4 linked regions of the Homo sapiens genome follow. The protein of the gene in region 2 interacts with the protein of the main gene of each other region in a biochemical or structural test. Each region holds a gene or a part of one and is shown on either strand. Other genes may lie near its edges.

Region 1 (6,799 bases), on a different chromosome or scaffold from region 2:
AATGTGTGTGGTGGGGGAAGGGAAGAGAAGAGTGCCTCTCTTATCTTTATTTTTTTCCTTTTAAAATTTCCACTTCCTAAAAACAAAATAAAACCCTTGTTAACCAAGTGCTCTCCCGTCACTGCAGGGCACGAAGGGCTACCCCGGCCTCAAGGGGGACGAGGGAGAAGCCGGGGACCCCGGAGACGATGTAAGTGTGGATGGGAGGCAGGGCCAGCCCCAAGTCCACCTGAGCCAGAGGGCTGGGCCCTTGAAGGGCAGTGGACCAGGACCCGCTTGGGGAGGCCTCATGGGCCCCGGCTGCTGGATGCTCTGTGGACGGGGCCAGCGCGCAGATGCCCGGGTGGTGCACGGTCTGTTGACACAACGCTGTTCCCTTCTAGAACAACGACATTGCACCCCGAGGAGTCAAAGGAGCAAAGGGGTACCGGGGTCCCGAGGGCCCCCAGGTGGGTGGATGTGGCTGGGTGAGGCCACGGTGGGCTGTGCCTGGGACGCCGGATGCTGGGGCTGGGGAATGCTGGAAGAGGCTGGGAGAGTGGGAGGCGGCGGGAGGGAATTTTGGGGAGCACGTCATCTGGGAGGCCCTGGGGGTGGGAGGTGCCGGTCACCAGGGCCAGGTGGTGGCCAGGGCAGCAGAGCCGAGCCCAGGGACACAGCGGGTCCTCAGGGTGGGGCCCACCTGGGATGGCCGCCTGGACCACCAGTGTGCGAAGCCCCAGCTGCCCTCACAGCACCGTCACTGGAGGACGAGGGGCTGGGTAGGGAGGGACCGGGCAGGGGTGGGCTTGATGAGGGGCAGGGCCCTGGGGGTGGGGGCTGTCTCAGCTCAGGAAGCACAGTGGGCTCCTCACCCTCAGAGCTCCTCTACTCCGTTTCTCGGACAGGGACCCCCAGGACACCAAGGACCGCCTGGGCCGGACGTAAGTGGGGCTCTGTGAACATTGCTGGGGGCGACCACTGTAGCTTCCATCCCTTGGGGTGTGGGTCCTGTCCATGGGTGCTCCTGTAGACGCTGCTCACGGGGGGGTGGGTTGTGGACAAAGAGCTGGTGCCAGGCCCTAGGGACCCGTGACGGCCATGGGAGGACCCGTGAGGATCATAGGGGGATGTGTGAGGACCATAGAGGGGACATGTGAGGATCATGGGGGACATGTGAGGATCATGGGGGGGACGTGTGAGGATCATGGGAGGACGTGAGGATCATGGAGGGGGACATGTGAGGATCATGGGGGACCCGTGAGGATCATGGGGGACCCGTGTGAGGATCATGGGGGGGGACGTGTGAGGATCATGGGGGGACCTGTACCCATGAGGACCATGAGGGGACCCGTGACGGCCACGGGGAGACCCATGACTGCGCTGTTTCTATGACCACGTCAGGGGTCCAGCCCAGTAGCAGGGGTGTAGTGGGCAGAGCCGGGCACACCTGCAAAGAACCTCCTGCCCAAACCCCGCCCTGTGGGGGCCCCAGGGAGGGTGACCTGGAGATCCAGCAGCCCACAGTCCCCGCTGGGAGGGGCTGTCTATGGCCCCAGTACCCTCGTCTCTCCCTCCCCAGGAATGCGAGATTTTGGACATCATCATGAAAATGTGCTGTGAGTATCTCTGAGAAGCCGTCCTCGTTAGGGAGAGCAGGGCCGCCAGCCTGGCCTGTTCCACTCCTAGAAGGGTGTCTCCACTGTTGGGGGCCTGGGTCTCTGGGTACATCCTTGAGGAGGCTCCTCAGCCAGCCCCTACCGGCCTCCAAAGCCCTCCCAGGCCCCCGGGTCCCCGCACAGGCTGAGAGTCCCCGGTGCGGTGCAGAGCTGCCACGTGGGGAGGGCGGCCGGGGAGGCGGGGAGGCGGGGCAGGAGGCCGGGGAAGGGGGGAGGCCGGGGAAGGAGGGCGGCCGGGGAGGCGGGGAGGCTGCCCCAAGAGTAAAAGCCTTTCTGACGTGCGCAGGACGCGGCCCTGACTGGTCTAACTGACTCTTTCTCTTCTCCTCAGCTTGCTGTGGTGAGACCCAGGCTCTAGCTCCTGAGAGAATGGATCCCGGGGGTCGGGGAGCGAGGCCTGGGTCCCACACATGTCACAGGACAGCACATGGCACTCTGGTCCCCGCCCGCAGCTCCCTGCACCTGCCCGCCCCCTCTGGGGCCTGCTCCAAGCCAGCAGGGTTCCCGGGTGTTGGGCTGGGCCCCGCCCTCTTTCACCCATAACTGAAATAACCAGGAGCAGGCTTGGGGGGGTCCCTGCTCCATCATTCTGGCCCACAGGCCCCACCCTAGCCTGGCTGAGCAACGCCAGCCCTGACCAGCCGCCGGACAGAGCAGCCTTTACGGGGCCATGGGAGGGGGTGGGCTTTTCTGGGGCTGAGACGGGGGGACCCCAACGTGTCAGGTGAGGATGTGGCAGCCAAGGAGGGGCCAGGGCGGTGGAGGGGAGGGGCCAGGGCACTGGAGGGGAGGGGCGTGCTCTGCTGACACCGCCCCCGCCTGCAGAATGCAAGTGCGGCCCCATCGACCTCCTGTTCGTGCTGGACAGCTCAGAGAGCATTGGCCTGCAGAACTTCGAGATTGCCAAGGACTTCGTCGTCAAGGTCATCGACCGGCTGAGCCGGGACGAGCTGGTCAAGGTGAGGCCTCGCCCCGCCCGGCTTTCTCAAGCCCAGGTGCACCCCGACCCTGCCGGCCGCCCCTGCCCGCGCCAGACCTCAGCCTCCCGAGGCCACCGCTGCATCCCTGTGACTTCCCTACTCATGACAAGGATGCCAGGCACGCGCCAGCCCGTCCAGGCCTCCAGCTCCACCTGGCGAGGCTGGCCCATTGTACACAGGCGCCCCAGATGAGGGAGGGTCTCCCCCTCTCCTTGAAGGGCGGTAGTCTGGGGTCCTGAGTGCTGGGTGTGGGCTTGTCCCTCGTGGACAGAACCCAGGAGGGCTTCATCCACCAAGGAAGATTGCTTTGCAGGGTACCCAGGTCCCGGGGGCTGTGCCACCCTCTGGGCACCCGGAGCCAATCGCAGGGTACCCAGGTCCCGGGGGCTGTGCCACCCTCTGTGCACCCAGAGCCAATCGCAGGGGACCCAGGTCCTGAGGTCCTGGGGGCCATGCCACCCTCTGGGCACCCGCAGCCAATAGAGTCACCCTTGGGAAGCTTATGCGGACCTGGGGCAGCACTCGCGTCCTGACCCCGGTGCCGGTCCCACAGTTCGAGCCAGGGCAGTCGTACGCGGGTGTGGTGCAGTACAGCCACAGCCAGATGCAGGAGCACGTGAGCCTGCGCAGCCCCAGCATCCGGAACGTGCAGGAGCTCAAGGAGTGAGTGCCCCACGCGGCCAGGACCCTCCCACCCCTCGCCCCGACCGCTGTTCCCACGGCAGGTCGGCCCTGACCCCTGATCCCAGGTGGGCTCGGCCCCGCGGCAGGCCTGGCCCCAACCGGCCCTTCCTGCCCTTTGCTATGCAGAGCCATCAAGAGCCTGCAGTGGATGGCGGGCGGCACCTTCACGGGGGAGGCCCTGCAGTACACGCGGGACCAGCTGCTGCCGCCCAGCCCGAACAACCGCATCGCCCTGGTCATCACTGACGGGCGCTCAGACACTCAGAGGGACACCACACCGCTCAACGTGCTCTGCAGCCCCGGCATCCAGGTGGGGTGGCCACCCCCAGGCTGCACCTGCCCCGCCTAGGGCGCCCCGCCAGCCAGGGTGGCCTTGTCCCCAGAAAGACGAGGGCAGAGCAGGCTGCGCCACACCGATACTGTCTGTCCCCACAGGTGGTCTCCGTGGGCATCAAAGACGTGTTTGACTTCATCCCAGGCTCAGACCAGCTCAATGTCATTTCTTGCCAAGGCCTGGCACCATCCCAGGGCCGGCCCGGCCTCTCGCTGGTCAAGGAGAACTATGCAGAGCTGCTGGAGGATGCCTTCCTGAAGAATGTCACCGCCCAGATCTGCATAGGTGCGCATGGGGCCACCCGGGCAGTCCCAGATCTGCGTAGGTGCGCGCGGGGCCGCCCGGGCAGTCCCAGATCTGCGTAGGTGCACGCGGGGCCGCCCGGGCAGTCCCAGATCTGCGTAGGTGCACGCGGGGCCGCCCAGGGCCGTCCCAGATCTGTGTAGGTGCGCGCAGGCGCCCAGGGCTGTCCCAGAGGCCTCCTCCCAGCTCACTGTTACCTCCAGGGGCACGGCCACCCTGTAGGTGCGCACGGGGCCGCCTGGGGCTGTCCCACAGGCATCCTCCTCCCGGCTCGCTGTGACTTCCGGGGGCACGGCCACCCCTGTGCTCGGCCGGGAGGTCCTGTGACATCTCCTTGCGGGGTTATAGGTGGAGCAGTGGGCTCACACTGCACGGCTTTTCTCTTTTACAGACAAGAAGTGTCCAGATTACACCTGCCCCAGTGAGTACCTCGGCGGCCGGGACACGTGGGGAGGAGGGCACCGTGGTTGGGGCGAGGGCTCTGAGAGGACGGGGCTCTGGGAGGAGGGCCTGGCGGTCACGAGAGTAGGTGCATGGCTCACTCCGGTGGCTGAGCACCACCGTGCCGTGCCCTCTCTGGGGAGCTTAGACGCTCTCTGGCCGGCCCACTGCGGCTGCATCACCAGGGCCTCATGCTAACGGCTGCCCACCCCGCCCCGCAGTCACGTTCTCCTCCCCGGCTGACATCACCATCCTGCTGGACGGCTCCGCCAGCGTGGGCAGCCACAACTTTGACACCACCAAGCGCTTCGCCAAGCGCCTGGCCGAGCGCTTCCTCACAGCGGGCAGGACGGACCCCGCCCACGACGTGCGGGTGGCGGTGGTGCAGTACAGCGGCACGGGCCAGCAGCGCCCAGAGCGGGCGTCGCTGCAGTTCCTGCAGAACTACACGGCCCTGGCCAGTGCCGTCGATGCCATGGACTTTATCAACGACGCCACCGACGTCAACGATGCCCTGGGCTATGTGACCCGCTTCTACCGCGAGGCCTCGTCCGGCGCTGCCAAGAAGAGGCTGCTGCTCTTCTCAGATGGCAACTCGCAGGGCGCCACGCCCGCTGCCATCGAGAAGGCCGTGCAGGAAGCCCAGCGGGCAGGCATCGAGATCTTCGTGGTGGTCGTGGGCCGCCAGGTGAATGAGCCCCACATCCGCGTCCTGGTCACCGGCAAGACGGCCGAGTACGACGTGGCCTACGGCGAGAGCCACCTGTTCCGTGTCCCCAGCTACCAGGCCCTGCTCCGCGGTGTCTTCCACCAGACAGTCTCCAGGAAGGTGGCGCTGGGCTAGCCCACCCTGCACGCCGGCACCAAACCCTGTCCTCCCACCCCTCCCCACTCATCACTAAACAGAGTAAAATGTGATGCGAATTTTCCCGACCAACCTGATTCGCTAGATTTTTTTTAAGGAAAAGCTTGGAAAGCCAGGACACAACGCTGCTGCCTGCTTTGTGCAGGGTCCTCCGGGGCTCAGCCCTGAGTTGGCATCACCTGCGCAGGGCCCTCTGGGGCTCAGCCCTGAGCTAGTGTCACCTGCACAGGGCCCTCTGAGGCTCAGCCCTGAGCTGGCGTCACCTGTGCAGGGCCCTCTGGGGCTCAGCCCTGAGCTGGCCTCACCTGGGTTCCCCACCCCGGGCTCTCCTGCCCTGCCCTCCTGCCCGCCCTCCCTCCTGCCTGCGCAGCTCCTTCCCTAGGCACCTCTGTGCTGCATCCCACCAGCCTGAGCAAGACGCCCTCTCGGGGCCTGTGCCGCACTAGCCTCCCTCTCCTCTGTCCCCATAGCTGGTTTTTCCCACCAATCCTCACCTAACAGTTACTTTACAATTAAACTCAAAGCAAGCTCTTCTCCTCAGCTTGGGGCAGCCATTGGCCTCTGTCTCGTTTTGGGAAACCAAGGTCAGGAGGCCGTTGCAGACATAAATCTCGGCGACTCGGCCCCGTCTCCTGAGGGTCCTGCTGGTGACCGGCCTGGACCTTGGCCCTACAGCCCTGGAGGCCGCTGCTGACCAGCACTGACCCCGACCTCAGAGAGTACTCGCAGGGGCGCTGGCTGCACTCAAGACCCTCGAGATTAACGGTGCTAACCCCGTCTGCTCCTCCCTCCCGCAGAGACTGGGGCCTGGACTGGACATGAGAGCCCCTTGGTGCCACAGAGGGCTGTGTCTTACTAGAAACAACGCAAACCTCTCCTTCCTCAGAATAGTGATGTGTTCGACGTTTTATCAAAGGCCCCCTTTCTATGTTCATGTTAGTTTTGCTCCTTCTGTGTTTTTTTCTGAACCATATCCATGTTGCTGACTTTTCCAAATAAAGGTTTTCACTCCTCTCCCTGTGGTTATCTTCCCCACAAAGTAAAATCCTGCCGTGTGCCCCAAAGGAGCAGTCACAGGAGGTTGGGGGGCGTGTGCGTGCGTGCTCACTCCCAACCCCCATCACCACCAGTCCCAGGCCAGAACCAGGGCTGCCCTTGGCTACAGCTGTCCATCCATGCCCCTTATCTGCGTCTGCGTCGGTGACATGGAGACCATGCTGCACCTGTGGACAGAGAGGAGCTGAGAAGGCAACACCCTGGGCTTTGGGGTCGGGAGCAGATCAGGCCTCAGTGGGCTGGGGCCGGCCACATCCACCGAGGTCAACCACAGAGGCCGGCCACAGGTTCTAGGCTTGGTACTGAAATACCCCTGGGAGCTCGGAAGGGGAGTTGAGATACTGCAGGGCCCATAGGAAGAAGTCTTGGGAGGCTCCACCTTTGGGGCAGAGGAAGAAGTCTTGGGAGGCTCCACCTTTGGGGCAGAGCAAGAAGAGGGCGGAGGGCAGAGGCAGCGAGGGCTCATCCTCAAAAGAAA
Region 2 (7,020 bases):
CCTACACTTACATCATGCTCGCCACCGTCCCACAGGACCAGCATGTGTCCCCTTCAGAAGGGGCTCTCAGGCTGCACCTGAGCCTCCCTGCATGCCCCGCTCCCCATCACTCAGGGACAAACCCAGGTCGGAGCACTGAACCACCCGCAGGTGGCAGTGGCAGCCGAAAGGACACATGGCGCTGTAGGTGGGTGTGACAGAGTCCGGGTCCAGGACGCCCGAGGTGTCAGCGCCCGAAGCTTCCTCATCGTTCATCATGAATGGCCCATCGTCCAGGGTGAAGTCCCAGAAGCCTCTCTGCTCAAAGGGCAGGGCCTGGCTCAGGGCCAGCAGAGACACGAGGCGCCACAGGGGCCACATGGCGGATGGACCTGGGGGAAGAGGCGAGGGGATCATCAGCACCAGCACCCACCTGTCTTCTCCATGCCAGGGGCTGGTGTTCCGCGTGTGTGGTGGCACTGCGTTCCCATCCCTCACCAGGGACGGCCAGACCCTGGAGCGGGAGGCGGAGAGGGCGGAGTGTGGGCAGAGGGCTCCAGGCAGGAAGGGAGTGGATGCTGCTGGCAAGGAGGGTGCCCCCTCCACTCCACTCCCTTCACTGCTTCCACTACCCCCCTCCCCATCCCGGACAGGACTTGGCTTAATCAGGCGATGAAATGTCTCCTCATCAGCAAGTCTGCAGGCCCCCACGCCTCTGAGTCTGCCAGAAGCCTGCTTTAGGGCGGGGGCGTCCATGAGGCTGCGTGGAGGAGGTGGAGGAGGAATCCTAGCCATTGGCCCTCAAGGGCTTTGAAGAATTCACTTTTGGGGACATCACTGTGGCCTCCTACCCGGGCCGATCCTTCCTTTGAGTTCTGGGCTCAGGGCAGCGTGGATGAAGTTAGTTGAGTGCGGCGACTCTGAGTTGCTTCCTCCCTCCACCCTGCCCACGTTTCTCAGAGACCCTCTAAGGCCAAGGTAGGGAGGCAGGGCGGAGAAAGAGGGGGTATCCTTGGAGGCCGTGGGTAAAGTTGGCTGAGGCAGCACTGAGTGGAGGCCCCCGAGGTGGAGGCCGTGGCGCCCCCAACACTGCCCCTGGGCCTTGGCTTCCTCCTCTGGACCACCCGCCCCAGCCCCCCGCCCACACCGCCTTGGCCCAAACAGCCCTGGAGCTCCCAGATCTGCTCGCACCCTTCCTCCCTGCCCACAGCCTCGGCAGCCCAGAGAGGCCCCCCAGGGGAGCAGGCTGCCGCCAGGGTGGCAGGGCAGGGTCAGGCTTGCCTGAGGCCCCCCAGGCCGAGGCGGCGAGTGGGAGTGGAGGCGAAGCAGCCCTGCCCGAGCCTGCCCCCAGCACCCACCTCTGCTTGCCTCCTCCCTCCTCATCAGACACGGTCTCCCGTCCAGAGGCAGCCGGGAATGTGCCCTACAGGAAGAGGCTGGAGCCCTGCCTCTCTCACCACTTCATCCACCCTGACTCTCCAGCAAAGGCCCAGGTCTCATCCCAGCCTCACCTTCCCCATCTGTTAAGTGGGAATAAACATGCCTGCCCTGCTTGCCACCCAGCCTGGGGTGGCCCTCGGTGCATCTGGAGATGGGGAGCCCAGCTGGGCAGCAGGGGCCTCTGGCAGACCTGAAGCAGTCGCACGCCCAGGAGACCCTCACTTAGGGCCAGTACTAGCTGGGGAGGGGCTGTCTGGGGCTCCAGCAGAGCGAGGTGAGCCCCCTAAGCCCAGCTGCTGGTTGCAGGGGTCTAAGGAGGCCGTGGGGAGGTGGGGGCTCTGCCCCCAGGCCAGCACCCTATGAGCAGCCCCGCCCTGCCCGATGCTTCCCCAGTTGCCCTGGGGGCTGGGCTGGCTGCCCGGGGCTGCCGCTTTGGAGTCCTTGCTACCAGCGGGCCGGGGGCCTGAGGCCACTTCAGGGCCAGGTTGGGTCTGAGCACAAGCCCAGGAGAGGGTTGGGATGGAGGCCTGTCCTGTCGCCCCCATGCAGCTCCTCGGGTGCTCCAGGGAGCATCTGCTGGCACGCGTCCCCCCTGCATTGGCATCCCCCCTAGAAGCCACCCATGCGCCCTCCCACACCTGTGGACAGAGGGGCCTGTGGTGAGGCTGTGGCTATAGCGGCTGCCAGGCCTGTGGAGTGGCCTTTCCGCAGCCAGCCCCGGAGCCCTCCTGAGCCCACAGGCCCTGGGCCACACTGCAAAGTGGGAGTCGGAGCCCAAGGCTTAGCTCAGCTTCCCCCTCATGTGGAGCTGGACTTCATGCTGACCCCTGGGGTCACCAGGAGGCCCCTGCTGGGGCAGCACCGAGCCTCCCTCATTCTTTTGAGCCTTGAGATCCCACAGTTGCAGCCCAGGGCCTGCCAGCCTCAGGCCGGCCCAGCAGAACCTAGGGGAACCGCCCGGAGGGTCTTGGCCCCCAAGTAGGGAGAAGGCTCAACACTCACCTACCTGGATGGTGTTTCCCTTCCTCCAGGGCAGGGCAGGGCCTCCGATGCCTGCTGCCGCTGTAGGACCCTCTCCCAGTGCCAGTGGACACCCGGGGGCAGAAGGAGGAGGAGGAGGAGGAGCAGTGGGAGAGAACAGGAAGGGCAGGGTGGAAGCAGGAGAGCAAGATGGAGTGGGGGAGGGAGGAGACTGCCCTGCCCCTCCTTGCCGATGCCCCTGCCAAAGCCGCTACCTCCCAGGGAGAGTGAGTCAGGGCTGGGACACCCCGCCAGAGCCCTGGCAAGCTCCAGGGTGGGCAGTCCACCTGGACAGGTAGGGTTGGGGTGGTCCGGCTGGGCCTACGGGAGGCTGTGGGGAGGGGCTGGGGAAGGCCGAGGGGACAGAGGACCATCTGACCATGGCCAGCTTGGAGCCCCCCAGGACCCACGCATTGGCCTGGAGGAGGACTCTACAGGGACTCCTGCCCCGGGGCAAGGGGTCTCCCCAGGAGCTGGGACTTCCCTGCAGGCCCTCCTGTTAGGGAATCGGGCCCTCCACCAGGGCAGGGGGCACAGGCACAGGGCAGGCCAGTCACGGCAAGACTGGCCATCGGGGTCTCAGGCGGGTTCCCGGGACCAGCTGTGGGGCAACGAGGGCTCTGGAGGCAGGCTGCCTGATACAGTAGGATGTCTGGGGGGTCTCCAAGAGACTGAGAAAGGGGCAAGGGGAAGAGGTTCCCTCAGAGCGGGGAGGGAGGCTGAGGGCTGGAAGGCCCATACACCCGGGCCCCGTGACAGAGGCAGAAGGACAAGGTTTGGCTGGTTTTCCATGGCTCATGGCTGTGCCCAAGCAGTGGGCAGGCTGGAGGGGCGGGGGCCGGGCAGGCTTCCCGGCACATCCCTCATTTCCCCTCAAAGAACTGGCACAAAACTGAGACCTCTCCCGAGGAAGGGGCAGGCTCCGTGTCTGAGCCCACAGGAGGCAGCAAGGGGCCCATGAAGTCAGAGGGAGCCAGGGGAGCCTGGGGGGAAGGATAGGATCCCCTGGAGCTGGCCTGATGAGTATCCCCATTTTATGGACACAAAAGCTAAGGCCGAGAGAGAGGCTCTGATTTCTCCCAAGTCACTCAGCCTGACTTGGAACTCAGCTTTGGCGCCTCCAGGCCCCGCCTGAGCTCTCAGCTGTGCTCCTCAGCCACAGGGCTCCAGCCATGTCTCTGGGCCTGTGAGAGCCTGAATGCCCAAGACTGGGGGTGGCAGTTTGGGAGGTCCTGGCAGTATAGGCTCAGCTGTCCTCCCAAAGCCTGGCCCCTGCCTTCTCCCCACCACCTCACACCAAGCCCCTCCCTCCTGCCAGAACATGCACACACACACACGTACACACATACACACACAAACACACACACAGATGCACACATACACGCTCACATACACACACGTGCACACGCACACACCTATACAAAACACATATGTACACACGTGCACACACACATGCACACACCTATACAAAACACATATGTACACACATCCACATGCATCCACATACATGCACACATCCACACATATACGTGCACACACCTATACACACATGTACACACATATACATGCACACACCTAGACACTCACACATGCATACCCATGTATACACATTCACATACACATATGATACACATATACACACATATATACACAGATGCACACACACTCATGCACACATCTATACACATACATGCACATGTACATCCACATGCGCACATGCATGCATGTATACACACATGCACACATGCACACATACACACATGCACACACATGCACACACACGCACACATACACATTTATACACACGTACACACACACACACATGCATACATGCACACATACATACATACATACCTGCACATATACACCTGTATACACGCATACACATATGTACACACATACATGCACACATCTATACACACATGCATACACACATTCACATATACATATGTATACATATACACATACATACACATATATCCACACATAGATAAGGCAGGCGGGGACCCCAGCCCAGGAAGCAGGAATACCCCATAGTCAGATCCTGTGAGACCCACAGCAAGTCCCTCCAGTCCTCAACTCTCCACCACCACAACTGAGGCCTCTGGGCCTCAGTTTCCCTTCATTGGCCTCTCTGGGTGTGTCTTCAGGGACTTCAGGGAGGGTTTCAAGCCCCACCAAAGTGTGCCCTGAGCTCCCTGGATACCATCTCTTTAGAGCAAAGGACAGGGGCGGCAATGGCATAAGCCCCAGGTTTGGCGACCGCAGGTGTGAGTGAGGGAGGAGGCTGGGCTTCCTGGAGCCTCCGCCACCACCCCAATAGGGCCCTCCTTGTCTGCCCCTCTGAAAGCTAGCGCAGTCCTCTGCACTGGATTGCTCGAGGTCACAGCCAAACAAGATGCGTTGGCAGCCTCTGAGAACATGGAGGGTCCGTGCCAGGCATTCAGGCCAGGCCAAGGGCGGCGGGAGCAGGGCTTGAGGTCTGGCGGGCCCTGGGAGCTCGCCTGCAGATGGTGTGGCTCACAGCTGCCAAGTGGCAGACGCCGGATGCTGTCTCCGCAGCCTCAGCCCTGGGCGTCTGCCCCCCTGAGCAACCCGACCTGAACTCTGACACATGTGCCACCTTCCACGCAGCCCTGCGGGGTCCCCGGGACTGTGTCCTTCCTCCCCTCCCCTCTGGCCTCCAAAGCCTTTTGGGCCCAGTTTCAACCAGCAGCCTGGTGCTTGTGCCCCCGCTGACACCCGGCCTGCCCCCTGCCACTCTCCCAGGCCCCAGTCCACCAGTCCCTCCCCGCCGATGGCTCCAGCCTGTACTTGGGCATCAACCAGAGAGGGGATGTGTACCCTCCCTGGCCTTGCCAAAGCCCGGCGTGTGCGTTCATCTGTGGGAGTGGCTGCCTGAGGGGCTGGGGGCTGGAGTGGGGAGGGGTGGACCTTGTGCCACATTCCAAGCCCCTGCCGTTGCCGGAGCATGCCCTTCAGGCAGCCACGCTTGGGCGTCTGCTCCCCTTGCAGCCACGTGTGGAGGGGCTGGGAAACCCCGGCTCATCTGCTGCTCAAATCCTTTCCAGAGGTTTTCTGGCAGGGTGGCGACAAGGGTGGAGTTCTCCCTTGATGCGCCCAGCCACCTCCCACCTCTCTGTGCCAGCCCTTTGCAGCCTGTGGCGCCCATGTCAAGGTCCAGCCTGTCCCCACAGTCGGCGGAGTGCGGGACTCAGCCCTTCCCACTGTGCGCTCCTGGTCCTCTGCACACGGACTACTGCTGCCCCCTCCCACTCTCCGAAGAGATCCGGGGCCTCCTGCTAGAGTCTCCAAGGAAAAGGGAGGATGCTGTCACCTCTCAGAGGCAGAGCAGGGGACTCATGTGATTTCTTTACTTAGCATCCTGCCGTCCCCCGTTGACTATAAGAAGGAAGCAATGCTCTTAGAACTTGATGAAGGGGTAAACTGAGGCTCAGGAAGTTGGCCCCAAACTCTTGCCCAAGGCCACACGGTGAGGAAACAGCAGAGCTGGGGCTGCACACACTGTCTGTCTGTCCGTCTGTGTCCTTGCCCCCATGTCTGGACCCACCCTCTCCCAATGCACACAGTGCCACAGGCCCCAAAGCTGACACGCTTCACACTCTCGGGGCTGTGCAGGGGGCTCCCCTGGAAGCATGGCCCTTCTGAGGACCATCAGTAGCTCCCTATGGCCCACAGATCCAGAAGCCCCTCCTCAGCCCCAACACAGCCAGCAGGGCAGCCCCCGCCCAGCCTCTCACCTCTGCCTCTGTCTGCAGGGAGTCTCCTGGAAAAGCCATCGTCTCCCCAGGCGAGCACTTCAGGGCCCCAGGGAAGGTGTTCCCGGCCTGCCCCCCAGAGCCTGGGGCCCTGCCTCCCTCCCTCCCTGGTACAGGCCCACCAAGGCCAGGAGGGGAGGGGAAGGTTTCCTGCAGCCCCTCCCTGCCGCAACCCGCTCTCTGCCGGGGGCTCAGGCTGGGCTGGGATTAGCCTCCTTCAGCCAGCCAGGGTGGCCCACAGCCTGCTTAGCTTCAGGCTCCTGGGACTGCTGGGCTCCCATGGGTGTGTGTCTCTTTGCATGAGGGCAGCCTCCAAGAACCATGGGATGGCAGTCAAGGCCAAGCAGGGACTCAGACTTCCAGAGGATAGAAGTCACACTGGCTTCCCAGACTTCCCCTGCCTCCAGGGACAGGGCTGCCTTCTAATCTTCTGGCCACCCAGGAGTCTGCCCGCCATGCTCCCCTTGGCCCATCTGAACACCTCAGGGACCAAACAGGACTGGGATGGCCAGCAGAGGCAAGTTCAAGAGGCCCACAGAGTCCGTTGGGCCCCTGGTCCTCCAGCTTATCTCAGGCCAGTGTTTAAGTGGAGCTCAGGCTTAAGATGCAGTGGACCAGGAGAGTTCCATGCAAGAAGGCTGGCTAGAGCCCCAGGCCCCTAAGCCTCAGAGATGAGCCTCATGGGAATGGGCAGCACCTTCACCAGGCCTGCCAGGGAGCCGGGACCTGACCCTGCCCCTTGGGCTGGCTGGGATCAGAGCTGCGCAGGTGGGAAGCTGGGAGTGGGAGGGTTCTGCAGTCC
Region 3 (7,020 bases), on a different chromosome or scaffold from region 2:
TGGGGTCAAGGGCTAGGGGACCACTCAGGGGAAGTCTGGGGCTGAGGATCTGTGTCTGAGCTCCCGAGGGTCATGTAAGGCTTGGAGGCCACTGGAACCGGAGCAATCCCTGATGTTGCCTCTAACAGCCTCTCCTTTGCAGAGAGGAGTCTCTGGACAGCTGGGTGAACACACATGCACATGTAGGGTAGATGCTAGACGCCCTCACACAGGGAGGACATGGAGCTGCTTCCAGCCTCTTGTTCCTGGAAGCCCTGGGACCTGGCCCCGGCCTACTCATCCTTGGGAGGCTAATCGGTGTCCACACCTCCCTCCTTCCTCCTGCCCGTTGGCTTCCTTGTCCTGTTCCTAGTTTCCTTGTCCCATTCCCAGCTGGGTAGGCTCCTCCCTCCCCAGCTCCCTCGCTGTCTCTCAATGCTCCGAGGCCTTGGGTCTTACCTGGCTTAAGAGGTTTGCCTCCAGGCCCCAGCGCTGCAGAGGGAAGAGAAGATAGTGAATGGGGTGGCCCAGCTTATCCATCTACTACTTATCCAACCCCCAACCCGGGCAAAGTGTGGGCAGTGTGGAATCACACACCCCAGGTCCTCCCGCTCAGACTTGGAGCCCCTGGGAACCTAGCTCTACTTCTAACTCGTGGTTTATACTCTCTGAGTCCCAGAGTCTCAGCCTCAAAAGGGGATGATGGGCTGGGGGTGGTGGCTCACGCCTGTAATCCTAGCACTTTGGGAAGCTGAGGCAGGCGGATCATCTGAGGTCAGGAGTTTGAGACCAGCCTGGCAAACATGGTGAAACCCTGTCTCTACTAAAAATACAAAAATTAGCCAGGCGTGGTGGCATGTGCCTGTAATCCCAGCTACTCAGGAGGCTGAGGCAGGAGAATCACCTGAACCTGGGAGGTGGAGGTTACAGTGAGCTGAGATCGCGCCACTGCACTCCAGCCTGGGTGACAAGAGCAAGACTTTGTCTCAAAAAAAAAAAAAAGAAGATGGTGCCTGCTCAGCCGGCTTGGCAGGGAGGTTTTTGAGGATAAAAAGAAATAGGAAGGGGCCGGGCAAGGGGCCGGGCAAGGTGGCTCACGCCTGTAATCCCAGCACTTTGAGAGGCCGAGTCAGGCAGATCACTTGAAGTTGGGAGTTCGAGACCAGCCTGGCCAACATGATGAAACCCTGTCTCTAGAAAAAATACAAAAATAAGCTGGGCGTGGTGGCACGCGCCTGTAGTCCTCGCTAATTGGGAGGCTGAGGGAGGAGCATCACTTGAACCTGGGAGGCAGATGCTGCAGTGAGCTGAGATCACGCCACTGCACTCCAGCCTGGGCGACAGAACGAGACTCTGTCCCCCCGTCCTCCCCCACCAAAAAAAAGAAGAAATAGGAAGGCAGAGGGCACCAGACATAAAGTCTAGGGGAGGGACTGGGAAGGCCAATGGGTTCTGGTTCTCAAAGAAGCCTCCTCCCACCGCCTGGATGCTGTCTGTGAAATGAGGGAGTCCTTGATGCTCGGGTCTCCCAGGGTTCTCAGGTCTGAGGATGCATGTGGCTCGGGTGAAACCCAGGCCCTTTCAGTGATGAACAAGTGTGGTTTCTGAGCTCACCTCCTCCTCCAAGGGCTCCGAGACCAGCCCCTGTGGGGGGAGAGAAAGAGAAAGAGAGATCATCGGTACTTCTGCCAGGCAAGCCCGCTGCCACCCCCAGCTATGGCTGAATCCACCTCTGCCTAACTACGTGACCTTGGGCAAGACCTGCTCTCTGCAAGCCTCGGTTTTCTCTTCTGCTTGGCCAGTAGTCCAGTGTCAGTATGTATCTGGGGGAGTGCTGGCGTCTCTCCCCACTTCCAGGTCACTTCTGTACACTCAAATGCTTTTTTTAATTTTTTAATTTTTTTTTATACGGAGTCTCCCTCTGTCGCCCAGGCTGGAGTGCAGTGGCGCGATCTCGGCTCACTGTAAGCTCCGCCTCCTGGGTTCAATCACATCATTCTCCTGCCTTAGCCTCCCGAGTAGCTGGGACTAGAGGCTCTCGCCACCACACCTGGTTAATTTTTTGTATTTTTAGTAGAGACAGGGTTTCACCGTGTTAGCCAGGATGGTCTTGATCTCCTGACCTTGTGATCCGCCTGCCTCAGCCTCCCAAAGTGCTGGGATTACAGGCTTGAGCCACCGTGCCTGGCCTCAAATACTTTTTAAGTATTGAAAGTATTACTTTTGATTTTTCTTTTCTTTTTTTCCCCTTTTCTTTTTAGAGACAGGGTTTTACTCTGTCACCCAGACTTCAGTGCAGTGGTGCTATTATAGCTCACTGCAGCCTTGAACTCCTAAGCTCAAGTGATCCTCCTGCCTCAGCCTCCCCAGTAGCTAGGACTACAGGCGTGCACCACTATGCCCAGCTAATTTTTTTTTAATTTCTATACTTCATTTTCATTTTTCTCAATGCAGAACATGGCTAATTTTAAATTTGTGTGTGTGTGTGTGTGTAGAGAGGGGGATCTCACTATGTTGTCCAGGCTGGTCTGAAACTCCTGGCCTCAAGCAATCCTTGTTTCTCTGCCTCCCAGAGTGTTGAGATTACAGGCATAAGCCACCATGTCCAGCCTGTATGCTCTTAATAGCTGTAAATCAATGTCTTGTTAATTGCATTTTTAAGTGGGTGTGACTTCTGGTAGGCGTGTCAATGTTCCTACCTTCTGTAGTGTCAAAATGTGCATCTATTATGGACATCAGCATCATCCGCATGACCTGGGTGTGTGGAAGTTTCATGTACGTTACCTGGATAAAAGACTCCTCCAGGAACTCCACCAGGAATGGCCCCAGGGACCCCTGAAAGGAAACAGGTAGAGTCAGTCCTCCAGGAGCCAGAACTATTAGGCTGGTGCAAAAGTAACTGCGATTTTTGCCATTACTTTCAATGGCAAAACCCACAATTACATGGAAACAAGAATAATGCTGATGGCAATAATGACATTGCTTGTCTCCAGAGCAGTTTCTGTTTACAAAGTGTGTTCTCATTCTTGCTCTTTGAAATCGGCCTGTGAAGTTGGAAGGGCAGGGCTTACTATCATCATTTTGTTTTGTTTGAGACTGAGACGGAGTCTTGGCCTTTCACCCAGGCTGGAGTGCAGTGGTGGGATCTCAGCTCACTGCAACCTCCGTCTGCCTGGGTCAAGCGATTCTGCTGCCTCAGCCTCCTGAGTAGCTGGGATTACAGGTGCATGCCACCAAGCACGGCTAATTTCTGTATTTTTAGTGGAGACAGGGTTTCACTATGTTGGGCAGGCTGGTCTTGAACCCCTGACCTCAAGTGATCTGCCTGCCTCGGCCTCCCAAAGTGCTGGGATTACAGGTGTGAGCCACCGCTCCCAGAGACTATCATCTTAAGACATGAAATCAGGCTCAGAGAGGTTAAGGGACATGCCTGGGGCCACACAGCTGGAAAGAGACGGGGCCTGGATTGAAGCTCAGGCCAGTGCTTTATTTTTGAGACAGAGTCTTGCTCTGTCACCCAGGCTGGAGTGCAGTAGCAAGATCTCAGCTCACTGCAACTTCTGCCTCCTAGGTTCAAGCGATTCTCCTGCCTCAGTCTCCCAAGTAGCTGGGACTACAGGCGTGCACCTCCACATCTGGCTAATTGATTTTTTTGTAAAGATGGGGTGTCAGTATGTTCCCCAGGCTGGTCTGGAACTCCTGGAAGCGATCCTCCTGCCTTGGCCTCCTAAAGTGCTAGGATGACAGGCCCCTGCGCCCTGCTGCCAGTCCTTAGAGTATGATTGTTCTTGCTGTGTTACCTGGTTCTCCCTGGAGTCAGGGAGAGGGCCTGGGGTGGAAGACACTGGGTCTGAGCACCTCTCACCAGGCAGCCCACTCCCTTCCCGAGCTGAGCTGCCGGGTAGAGGCCAGAGCTTTGGGAAGGGCAGGCTGGGCTGCTACAGCGAGCATTAAGGAGGTGCAGCTGCCAGCACAAATGCAGCCATTCCCACACTGATAGGACGGCGTGAGGTCAGCGTCCTCAGCCACTGGGCAGCCGAGCTTGGGTGGGGCTCTGGCCGTCTGACACGGGCTGTCTTAGGAGGCGCCGGGGCCGCAGGGGGACGCCATGAATGAGCACAGTGAATAGTTTCCTAAGGAAAAGCGAATTCACCGGCCAGACAGGATCACGAGTTCAGTCCCCATGGACCAGTGAAGCTCTCACTGGGGAACGCTGTGATGCTGGATCCAGACCCTGCCTGAGCCATCGCCATGGCAACAGACAGGGTCCCAAACCGGGGGCCCTGCCTCCACCTCAGAAGGCCCCCCTCTGAGCTTGACAAGCCACCTTGCCAACGCCCCAGCCCAGCCCTCCCTTACTGCTTTTGCTGAAAGGGGCCGGGAGCCCCGTGGGGCATGGGCGGGGCTGGGGGAACGGGTGTCTCTGCAATGTGTCCAGGGAGGCCTCGCGGCCAGACGTCTGGCCTCTGAGGCCTGGCGACGCTGCACAGCTGGGCTTGCTGGCCCCAGGGCCCTGTCAGCCTCAGCTGCAGCCCAGCAGGGTCAGGGCTGTGGAGCTGTCACAGCCACCGGAGCCAAGACCCCGGCGCCACCCCCTCCCAGGGCTTGTGGCTCCTCAGGCACTGCAGTCCAGGCCTGAAGTGTGCAAGTAATCTGGTCAGAACCTCAAGGCTCGGAGTGGTGGCCCCAGGGGGGCTGGGCCTGCTGAGAAGGAGCACTTGGGCCCTGTCATCCGCTGCCAAGCACACACATGGCCCGCCTCGGGCCTCTGATGCCTTCCCTGGCTCCGGCCTCCAGCTCTCAACAGTCTCTTATGCGTCTTTCTCTGCCTCGGCCTCTCTCCTTCCTCCTCTTTCTCCCCCTCTCCCTCATTCTTCACGTGCCTCTCTCCCTTCCTCTCTACTCTCTGGCTCCAGAGCAGACTGCAGGGAACAGTGTGGTGGAGGTGGGGGGAAGAGCAAAGTGCTCAGAACAGACCCCTCTGGCTTCTAATTCTGCCTTCGCTGCTTCTTACCATCTGTGCGACCTTGGGAAAGTCACTCAACCTCTCTGAACATCGGTTTCCTTTTTTGTGACATGGGGCAGATAATCACTTGGTTGTTGCAAGGTTGCAAGGTTGCTGCAAGGTTGCAAGGTTGCTGCAAGTTGTAAAAGGGTTCAAGTAATAGGCTATGTCCTCTTCTGGACCTGGCAGACAGTAATTGCTCAAAAATAAAAAGACAGTGGCACTTACGTTTCATTTTTTCCCATTTCACTGCACAGTCCGTGGCCCAGGGCCAGGTATGCAGTAGTTACTCAATACATGATGGGTGAATTAAGTAGAGGGGTGGCAGGGTGGTTGTCTGTGAATCCAGCTCTAACCTGTTTCATCCCCATCTGCCCTGGGAGTCCCCCTGCCTTGGGCTTGTTGAGCCCCTGGGCCTGGCTGAACCCTGACTTCCTTTCTCCTGGGGTTCTGCCCTCCTGCACCCCAGGCACTTTCTGGGGGGAAGACTTAGCTTCCCCTCCCCCAGATCTCCTCTGTCCCCACTCTCCACCCCCACCGTTCAGACCCTGATGATGGTGGCATTTGCCAAACTTCATGCCTGAACCTGACGGCCTGGGGAGCCCGAGGTTTTAATCCCCACTTTGCAATGAGGAAATGGAGAAGGTTTAGGGGCTACGAAGGATTCCTGCCTCTCTGCAAGTGAGAGAGGTGAGAATAAAATGACAGCAGCTGGAAATTGGAAAGGACTTTGAAAAGGTAACAGCTGCTTCCCCAGGCCCCGTGGCGATCCTCACTTCTCCCTCCACTCCTTGGCACAAGCCGTTTCTCCTGCCAGGAATGTCCTTGCCTCTGTCCAAGTCCTACCCCCGCACCAGGGCTGAGCTCAGACTCTCCCGCCTGCCTTTCCCGAGCCCACGGCTCTCCCTGACTGTGCTGCTCAGCTGGCCCTAAGCAGTTGGCCTGGAGAACACTTGTCTTGTTTTATGTGGTTTTGGCATGTTTCACCGACTAGCCCAGGGTGGAACTTGTCTCTTGCATCTTAGAATCACGATCCTAGACTCTCAGGGATCATAATAGTCTTCTGGCCTGGGCTGGACCTCCTTCCACAAACATCCTTCGTGTTCTGCTTGCATACCTCCCATGATGGGAAAATCACCACCTCCAAATGCTGTCAGCACTAACTGCAGACAGGGCTTCCTCCAATCGAGAATCTGCTCTTCTGTCTCTTCAGTTCTGCCTGCCAGGGCCTGTAGTCTGGGGACTTACCCCTCATCCACAGACAGGTCCTCCAACATTTTCCTTCCTTCCTTCCTTCCTTCCTTCCTTCCTTCCTTCCTTCCTTCCTTCCTTCTTTCCTTCCTTCCTTTCTTTCTTTCTGTCTCTCTCTCTCTCCTTTCTCTCTCTCTCTCTCTCTTTCTTTCTTTTTCTTTCTTTTTAAATATTCATTTATTTTTTAAATAGAGACGGGGGCCTTCCTATGTTGCCCAGGCTGGTCTCAAACTCCTGGGCTCAAGCAATCTGCCCATGTGGGCCTCCCAAAGTGCTAGGATTACAGGCATGAGTCACTGCACCTGGCCCCATTTACTTTTCTCTTTAGGTTTAACTCAAATGTCACTTCTGCTGGGAAGCCTTCCTGGATTTCTCAAGGCTCCTTCTGGCCACCCCCAACCGAGTCCTGTCTGCTTCTTTCATCATTGCACATCTATTTACACATTAGCTGCCCCTCCACTAGACAAAACATGGTGTAAGTAGTGAGAGGGAGTATTAAACCTTAGCAATGTGCACTAATTACAAGGATCCATGAGCCCAAATTAGCAGACTCTGAATAAGAGAATAGATTATTTTAAAAATGCCCATTCCCACGGTCCTTTTATTTGATGCTTTTTTTCCCCCCAGATATTACATTGCTAGAAGCTCTCACTGGCCCTAGGAGGTACTTCAGGCAGGGCTGTTTCTCCCCATTTTGCAGCCAGGGAAATGGAGAACCAGTGAGCTGAAGAGCCTGGTCTGGGACCCCCAGCTGACCCCAAGTCACATGTAGGGCCATTTGCCTG
Region 4 (7,868 bases), on a different chromosome or scaffold from region 2:
GGAGTTTCTCATGTCTGCTTGTTTCCTATTTGTCTCCCTTCCCTGGACTGGCAGCATGATGAGGAGCAACGATGTGTCTGCCTGGTTCATCGCTGAATCCCCAGGGCCTAGCCCAGCACTTGGCACGTGGTAGGGACTCAACACATCGCTGCTGAATGAATGAATGTTGGCCCTGCTAGGACTTTTGTGGTCCTCATTGATTCTCTTCATTTGGCCAGTAGGGACCCCCACAAGGTCAGGACTGTATAGAGCAGAAGGGCCCTGAATGGATCTAGAACTCAAGCATCCGGACTCCCTGCCTTGGGTGCCCCTGCACCTGCACATCGGCTCCCAGAGAGGCCTTGTGCCTTGTGCCCACGGAGTCCTTGTGCCTGGGACGTGCCCTCCAGAACCCTGCCTGCCTGCTGCTGTGGAAGGCTGGGGGAAGGGCCAGGAGCTGCCTCCAGATGCTGCCAGGGTTGGCTGGTCCAGTCTGTGGTCCAAGCAGGCAGAAGGCCCTGGGAGCTGGGGAGCTGAGTTCTGGTCATAAGTCGTGACAAAGGCTCACTATGAATTCCCCCTACTAACCCTACTCCTCAGCCCCACATAAGAGGAGCTACCCCCTGCCCCAGGAGCCACTTACCAGGCAGGAATAGCAGGAAGAGGTAGGCAGCTCTCATGGCAACAAAGAGGCAGGCCGGGGTGGTGTCAGAGAGGACAGCTGGGGAAAGACCGGTGGGAGAGCTCTACCCAGGGCCACACCCAGGACAGCAGAGCTCACCTTTGATCCCCTGATTTCGCCCTGGAGAAGGTGGCACCCAGAATAGAAGCCAGGCATGGGAGGGCTGGAGTGGAGGGACATCCCAGTCCCTGCTGGCCCACCCAGGTGTTCAGGTCACAAGGGACAAGGCCTCCAACCCAGCTCCAGGGCTGATCCTGACAAGCAAACCCCGTGTAGTGGGTGTACTTGATGTGGTCAGGGAAGGGCGGACCCTGCCCTGCTCACTAAGGGGACATTCCTAATGTGCTCCCAGCCCAGGCCATTCTGTCCTCACCCACACCCGTGCTCAGCCCTCTGGCCCAGTGGCTCCCTGGGTGTCCAAGGCACTGACTGCGTGAATCACTGAACCCAGGCCCATCCTTGGGACCCCAGCCCTGGCCAGCCGGCATCACCGCCTGGACTCAGCAGCTTCTGCCAAGCCACCACCTGCTCCCAATTAGCCCCTGGGCCCTAAGCATCCTGCTCAGCAGGAAACCACATACACATGGGCCTGCCCGGCCCCCAGAGCGGCCAGGCCGGGCAGGGCTCCCAGCTCCCAGAAGACTCCTCTCCTGCCAGGCCTCCAGGCCTCGCAAGACCTGGCTGTGTGCATCACAGGCTCACGAGACCCGGGCTATTTGCAGCAGCAGGAAGCACGAGAGTGAAGCCTGAGGGGGCTCCTCTGGATCCCAGAAAGGCAGCACTGAAGGGGCCGTGACATCACCCAGGCTGGGGGTTCTGCACCCCCTGACACTGTAGGCAAGTGTGTGTGTCATTTGGAGGGAGAGGGCATGGGGTCCGTGGCTTTCATCAGGCTCCTGACATTCAAGAGCCCAGCCTCCAGTCCTGGCTACACGGTGGGACTTGGGGGAGCCTCCGGTTCCCCACATCCAGCCCCAGCTCAGTGGAGGGCCACCTCAGGTCCGTCAGCCTTCTGTAGGGAGGGCTGCGAGGGCGGGGTCCATCCAGGAGGGCCCCTCCCGGCTGCAACCCAGGAAGTCCTTTCAGAGAGCTAGCTGGAAACCCCAACTTTGGTCTATTTTCCCCACTGGGAGTCCAGGGAGAGGGGAGGGAAAGGGGAGAAAGCAGGAGGTCTTTCCCTCCTTCCTCTCAATCCTGAGGCCTCCTGACCCCCTGGCTCCTCTCATGCATTAGGCACCTCACTAAGGTGGAGTGGGAGCCGGGAGACGAAGCTCAGGACCAAGCTGCCCCAGAGGCGAGGGATAGCTGGCTCCCCACACCCCATTCTGAAAACCCTTGACCTCCTCATGGGAGGGGGATGAAAAGACCCAGAGAGCCTTCCTTGCCCTTCTCCCCATCCGTCAGGTCGGTCGGAGCCCCCGCTGCTCAGCAGAAGGCGCTGAATTGGGGCAAGAGGGGTTGCAAGGTGTTGGGGGATGCCTGTCGGTACCCTGCGGGGAGTCTTCCTCCCCTAGGACTGGCCCCCGAACCCAGGCTTATTGGGGGAAGGAGGCCCACGGGCTAGCGGGGAGGCAGGAAAGAGAGAAGTCAGTGTGGAGTTCATGAACTCCTCCCACGGGACCACATCTCCGAGCTCTTCTAGACGAAGGGGTTTTGGGGCGTGCGGGAGGCCAGGACCTGCCTGGGAGGCTGCCCCACCCCCACCTCTGGCCTCTTCCACAGCTGCGGCCTCCCCCACCCCCGACTCCCCTGCGTCCTGGGAGGTGGGGGACAGGGGGCCCCGACGCTCGCTCAGACATCAGACGGAGGGAGGGCTCTGCCGGCTCCAGAGCCGGGCTCAGGGGGAGGGGTCCCGGCGGGAGAAACCCAGATGTTGCAGCGCCGCACAGCTGGGAACAATCAGCCGCGGAAACTTGCTCCGCGCGCCCTCGCGCTCCCGTCTCTGATCTCTCTTTGTCTCTCTGCGTCTCTGTCTCGGCCATTCCCACCGGACCCCCCCCCCCCACCCCACCCGCCACATTCCAACCTCCCCGGGAGAACAAAAGATGTCCCATCCCCCGACGACCTCACCTCTGGCTCCCCCCAAACTCGGGCTCCCCGCCCTTCCCAATTCGCGTTCTCTCTGCAGAGCAACCCCAAACTTTCCAGGTGCCCCCTTGGCCTCCGCTCTGAAGGCGCGGGGTTCAGGAACCTCCGCGGCTGCCCCAGGATCGAGGACCCAGAGAGCCTGGCACCCTCGCCCCCGCGCCGGGGGACCCGCCGACGCCCCTGACCGCCCCCCGGGGCCCCCAAGCGCCAGGCCCGCGCCTACCTGTCCGGGTCACTCCGCCGCCCGCTCCGAGTCCGCCCGCCGGAGCCGCCCCTTGGCCCGCTCCGAGTCCCCCTCCGGGCCCCCGACGGGGCTGGCGCCCGCCCTCCAGCCCCGGAGCCGCTGGGTCCTAACGCGAGCTGCCCGCATGGGCCGCCACGCCGTGCCCTCGGGGTTCCATCTCCTGGGGGGGGGGGTGTCCCCGGGGTAGAGGCGCCCGGGGCCGTCCTCACGTCTGTGCAAAGCTTCCTCCTCCTCACAGCTGCTCCTCACTCGACGTCGACGGGGTGAGGGGGGTGAGGTGGGCAAGGGTAGGTGTGTTGCCCATTTCACAGAGGAGGAAATCAAGCCTCCCAAAGTGACTCACCCTAGGCCCCTCAGCCAGAAAGTAAGCCTCGATCTCCCTCTGCCTTCTCCCAGCTTCCAGGACACTCTCCTGCCTTGGTTTTCCTTCTGCCTCTCCAGCCAAGCCTGCTGCCTCTCTCAGGCCCGCACCCTCCTCTCCTACACTGCTGAGCTCTGGGCCATGGCTGGCTTCCACAACCAGCGGTTCTTTCTTTCCTTTTCTAGAGACAGGGTCTTGCTGTGTTGCCCAGGCTCGTCTGGAACTTCCGGCCTCGAAATTTTGGCCTCAAGCATTCCTCCTGTCTCATCCTCCTGGGCTGTTGGGATTACAGGCATGAGTCCCTGCCCCCGGCCATAACCAGCACCTCTTTCAGCCCTGACCCAGCCTATGTGTCCCACAAATGTCCTCAAGATGCATCAGCTTCAACAAGCATCCAAGTCCAAATTCACGACCTCCTAACTCTCCCCCAGACCTGGCCCTCCAGGATTCCCAGTCCCCCCTTGGCCCCGCAGCCTTCCATTACCCAGGCTTCCTCCCCTGCCCTTAGCCCTGCATCTAATCCAGCACCCACCCGTGAATGCTACCTGAAAAATTTCTTTTGTGACTCCGTTCACTGCTCCCACCCTGGCCTAAGCCACTGTGAGACCAAGTTGCAATCCCAAGAAACCGCATTTGCTCTTTCTGCTTGTCAGAAGCTGACAAAGCCCTGACTCAGTGACTGGGGGCAGCCCAACGGAAGGATGCCTTGAAGATGGCAGGCAGGGCAGAACACAGGCTCCCACGCCTCTTGCCTGAATCACTGCATTGTTAGAAAATATAAGTTAAATGATCCTGGCTGTGCCTTTTCCTGTACATAAGATAGCACCTGACAGGATTGACGATTATGCCTCTATAATCTATATAACTAGGTGCATCCTCGAACCCAAACCTTGGCGAGATTTGCACTAGTGTAGCTTCTGAAGACATTTGATGTAAATTTTTCTTCTTCTTTTTTTAATGAGACCGGGTCTCGCTCTGTCATCCAGGCTGGAGTGCAGTGGCACCATCACAGCTCACCTCTTGGGCTCAAGTGATCCTTCCACCTCAGCCTCCCAAGTAGCTGGGACTACAGGCAAGAGCCGCCATGCCTGGCTAATTTTTTTTTTTTTTTTTTTTTTTTGTATTTTTTGTAGAGAAGGGGTTTTGCCGTGTTTGCCCAGTCTGGTCTCAAACTCCTGAGCTCAAGCAATCCACCCGCCTCAGCCTCCAAAAGTGCTGGGATTACGGACGTGAGCCACCGTGCCTGACCATAGCTTCTGAGCACACACAGAACCGCCTGCCTCTGTATCTAAACTGTGGGCTGAAATGCTGCTTTGGCGCAGTCTAACAGAAACTCTCTGAAACCCTCTCCCAGGGTGCAGTCCTCAGTAAGACTCAATAAAACTAACTTTAATTTTTTCAATGGCTGATTTTTTTTTTTTTTTTGAAATGGAGTTTAACTCTGTTGCCCAGGCTGGAGTGCAGTGGTGTGACCTCGGCTCCCTGTAACCTCCACCTCCCGGGTTCAAGAGGTTCTCCCAACCCAGCCTCTCGGGTAGCTGGGATTACAGGCACATGCCAGCATGCCAGGCTAATTTTTGCTTTTTTTTTTTGAGTAGAGACAGGGTTTCACCATGTTGGCCAGGCTCCTGACCTTAGCTGATCCGCCTGCCTTGGGTTCCCAAAGTGCTGGGATTATAGGCATGAGCCACTGTGCCTGGCCAAAAGGTGGATTTTTTCTTTTTCTTTTTTTTTGAGACAGGGTCTTGCTATCTCCCAGGCTGGAGTGCAGTGGTGCATCCTCAACTCACTGCAACCTCTGCCTCCTGGGTTCAAGCGATTCTCATGCCTCAGCCTCCAGAGTAGTGGGGACTACAGGCACCCACCACCATGCCTGGCTATTTTTTTTTTTTTTTTTATTTCTCGTAGAGACGAGGCTTCTCCATGTTGTCCAGGCTCGTCTCGTACTCCTGACCTCAGCTGATCCACCCACCTTGGCCTCCCAAAGTGCTGGAATTACAGGCGTGAGCCACTGCACCTGGTCAAAAGGCTGATTTCTTATTTAGTTGACACCACCATCATTTGCCTGGGCTCTGCGATAGCCTCCACTCTGGGCTCTCCCACGTGGGTCCTGCCTCCCTCACCCCCGCAGATCGTGCCCCTTCTACTGATCGCCTTTCACTCAGGTTAGAGGCTCAACTTCCCTGTGGCTTCCAGGGCCCCGGCCCTTTATGGCAGCCTGGCTCTGCCTCCTCTTCCTCCTCCAGCCACTGGCCTTTGGGGGTTTTCTCCCAAACCCCTCTCCCTCCCACACTGAGGCGTTTCTTCCTCCCGAGCACTGGCTGAGGTCTCCTCCATGGGGTCACAGATCAAACCCTCCCTTCCTCAGAGGGGCCTTCCCTTTTTCCTTTTTTTGTGCTTTCTAGCTTTACTGCTTGCAGTTGTCTTGTTGGCCTATGTCTGTGACCATCTGAGCCCTGTCCCTCTTCCCGATGAGACTGTCATCTTGCCCCGTGAAGGCCAGGACCAAGGCTGTTTTTGCTCATCTTCAGTTTTGCTCATTAAGTTCAGAGCCCGGCTCAGAGCAGCAGTTCAGCAAACATTGGTGGAATGAATGAGTGAACTGTACACTAAACTCTTCCCGGAGAAGCTGGCTGGGGGTGCAGATCCTCTGCGTGAGGGGCAGCCTTCAGCCCTGCCCAGGAGCCTAGGCCTGAGGCGGGAGTGAGAGTTGTAGGGGCTGCGGGCTGGGAGGAGATGAGGATGGCCCCTGATTTAGACCCTTGCCATCTGATCTCTTCATCGCCAGTCATTCCCCCACCTCCCTTAGACTCTGAGTCTTAGGGAGGGAGTAAATATGCCCTGTGCCTCCTTCATTCCCATGCCCCGCCCCCCAGTGTCTATTGCAGGGCAGCAGAGACTTTTGTCACCTGGAGAGAGGTGGGCCCTCAGGCCAGGCCAGCCCAGCCCTCTCTGCCTGCCCTTAGACCCCACTGCTGCCAGGAGCAATCCCACTGGCAAAAGAGAGGAACTCACCCAGCAGAAATGCTGTCCCCTACCCTTGAAAAAAGGAGGGAGGTTGGGTGCAGTGGCTCACACCTGTAATCTCAGCAGTTTAGGAGACCAAGGCGGGTGGACCGCTTGAGCCCAGGGGTTTGAGACCAGCCTGGACAGCATGGCAAAACCCCATCTCTACAAAAAATACAAAAATTAGCTGGGTGTGGTGGTGCTGGCCTATAGTCCCAGCTACTCAGGAGGTTGAGGTAGGAGGATCACCTGAGCCTGGGGAGGTAGAGGCTGCAGTGAGCCACGATTGCACCACTGCACTCCAGCCTGGGCAACAGAGCAAGACCCTGTCTGAAAAAAAAAAAAGAAAAGAAAAGAAAAACTGGGAAACTGAGGGGCTAAAGCTGACAATTCGTGTCCTGGCTCCCATGTCCTCTCTGCTGCTTCTACCCATTCCCCTGGCTGTTTCTTTGGGCAGGGGAGGGGATGGGGCTGTGGTTGCTGTGCTCCCACTACGTCTTTGGAGATGTGCTCCTTCCCTGCCAGGCTTTCACGCTGGATGGTGAACTGCTCGCAGGGTTAGACCATGTTTTTGTCCCGTTTTATTCAGTTTGTTGAGTTAGTCCTGGTGCCTGGCACACACCTGTCCAACAGATTCATGAATAATCAGCTAAGGGTAGAGGAGGGATTTGAACCCAGGCCTCTCTGTGGCTTCCTCTTAAACAGCATCTACCACCCTGAACCGTCGCTGGCTGGCAACACAGTGCCAGGAGCAGAGGTCCACTGTGATGTGCCTCCTGGCAGGACTTTCATCTTCACACCCACATCCCTTCTCCCCAGCATGATTCAACGTTTTCTCAGCCCCTACTCTGGCAGGCCTGGGGATAGCACCAGGGGTTCCAGGAATGAGGTTGGCCAGGGCTTTTGGAAGGCAGGAAACAGCCGGTCTTTCCTGTTCTCCCCTGCCCAGATGAGCCAGACGGCCAAGCTGCCTCTCTAGAGCAGAGGGGCTTGGCCAGGGGCCCGCTGGTGAGATGAGCTCAGAGGCACCCACCCTTCCCTGAGGGATGATGCGCGTGGTTCTGGCTGGGAGATGTGGGCTCCGAGCCTGGATTTCATCTGAGGAAGGAACTGCCCACAAACATGTCCCAGGATGCTGGGGTGGGACGGGGAGGGGGTAAGGTGGGAGAGAGGGAGCTGCCCCCTAGCAAATGCCTCCCAGGCAAGCCTACATCTCCTTGTCCTCCAAAGGAGGGTAGGAGGGTTAGGAACATCGAAGCTGGAGTCAAAGCTATCCGGCCCCACTCTGACTACTTGTGTAACCTCTAAGCCTTGGTTTCTTCATCTGTAAAATGGGAATAGTACCACAGTTGTTGGAAGGATGACATGACAATGTGTGTAAAATGCTAAATGGGGCCAAGCGCAGTGGCTCACGCCTGTAATCCCAGCACTTTGGGAGGCCAAGGTGGGCGGATCACCTGAGGTCAGGAGTTCGAGACCAGCCTGGCCAACATGACGAAACCCTGTCT

What was found.
Region 1: the proteins of BGN (region 2) and COL6A1 form a complex in vitro, tested with the Homo sapiens proteins (one study listed by BioGRID).
Region 3: the proteins of BGN (region 2) and ELN form a complex in vitro, tested with the Homo sapiens proteins (one study listed by BioGRID).
Region 4: the proteins of BGN (region 2) and MFAP2 form a complex in vitro, tested with the Homo sapiens proteins (one study listed by BioGRID).

The regions. Positions count from the first base shown.
Region 1 is NC_000021.9:45,998,770-46,005,568, forward strand, and holds the end of COL6A1 (collagen alpha-1(VI) chain precursor), read left to right. Parts: intron 1-127; coding exon 128-190; intron 191-383; coding exon 384-449; intron 450-887; coding exon 888-923; intron 924-1,561; coding exon 1,562-1,598; intron 1,599-1,989; coding exon 1,990-1,998; intron 1,999-2,483; coding exon 2,484-2,617; intron 2,618-3,191; coding exon 3,192-3,301; intron 3,302-3,448; coding exon 3,449-3,632; intron 3,633-3,757; coding exon 3,758-3,941; intron 3,942-4,350; coding exon 4,351-4,380; intron 4,381-4,621; coding exon 4,622-5,244; 3' UTR 5,245-6,279; downstream 6,280-6,799. UniProt on the Homo sapiens protein: Collagen VI acts as a cell-binding protein.
Region 2 is NC_000023.11:153,497,972-153,504,991, reverse strand, and holds part of BGN (biglycan preproprotein), read right to left. Parts: intron 376-7,020; exon of another isoform or gene 372-375; 5' UTR 361-371; coding exon 123-360; intron 1-122. UniProt on the Homo sapiens protein: May be involved in collagen fiber assembly.
Region 3 is NC_000007.14:74,031,158-74,038,177, reverse strand, and holds part of ELN (elastin isoform a precursor), read right to left. Parts: intron 2,815-7,020; coding exon 2,764-2,814; intron 1,624-2,763; coding exon 1,594-1,623; intron 472-1,593; coding exon 439-471; intron 1-438. UniProt on the Homo sapiens protein: Major structural protein of tissues such as aorta and nuchal ligament, which must expand rapidly and recover completely.
Region 4 is NC_000001.11:16,977,615-16,985,482, forward strand, and holds the start of MFAP2 (microfibrillar-associated protein 2 isoform a precursor), read right to left. Parts: upstream 3,007-7,868; 5' UTR 2,973-3,006; intron 701-2,972; 5' UTR 660-700; coding exon 623-659; intron 182-622; exon of another isoform or gene 55-181; intron 1-54. UniProt on the Homo sapiens protein: Component of the elastin-associated microfibrils.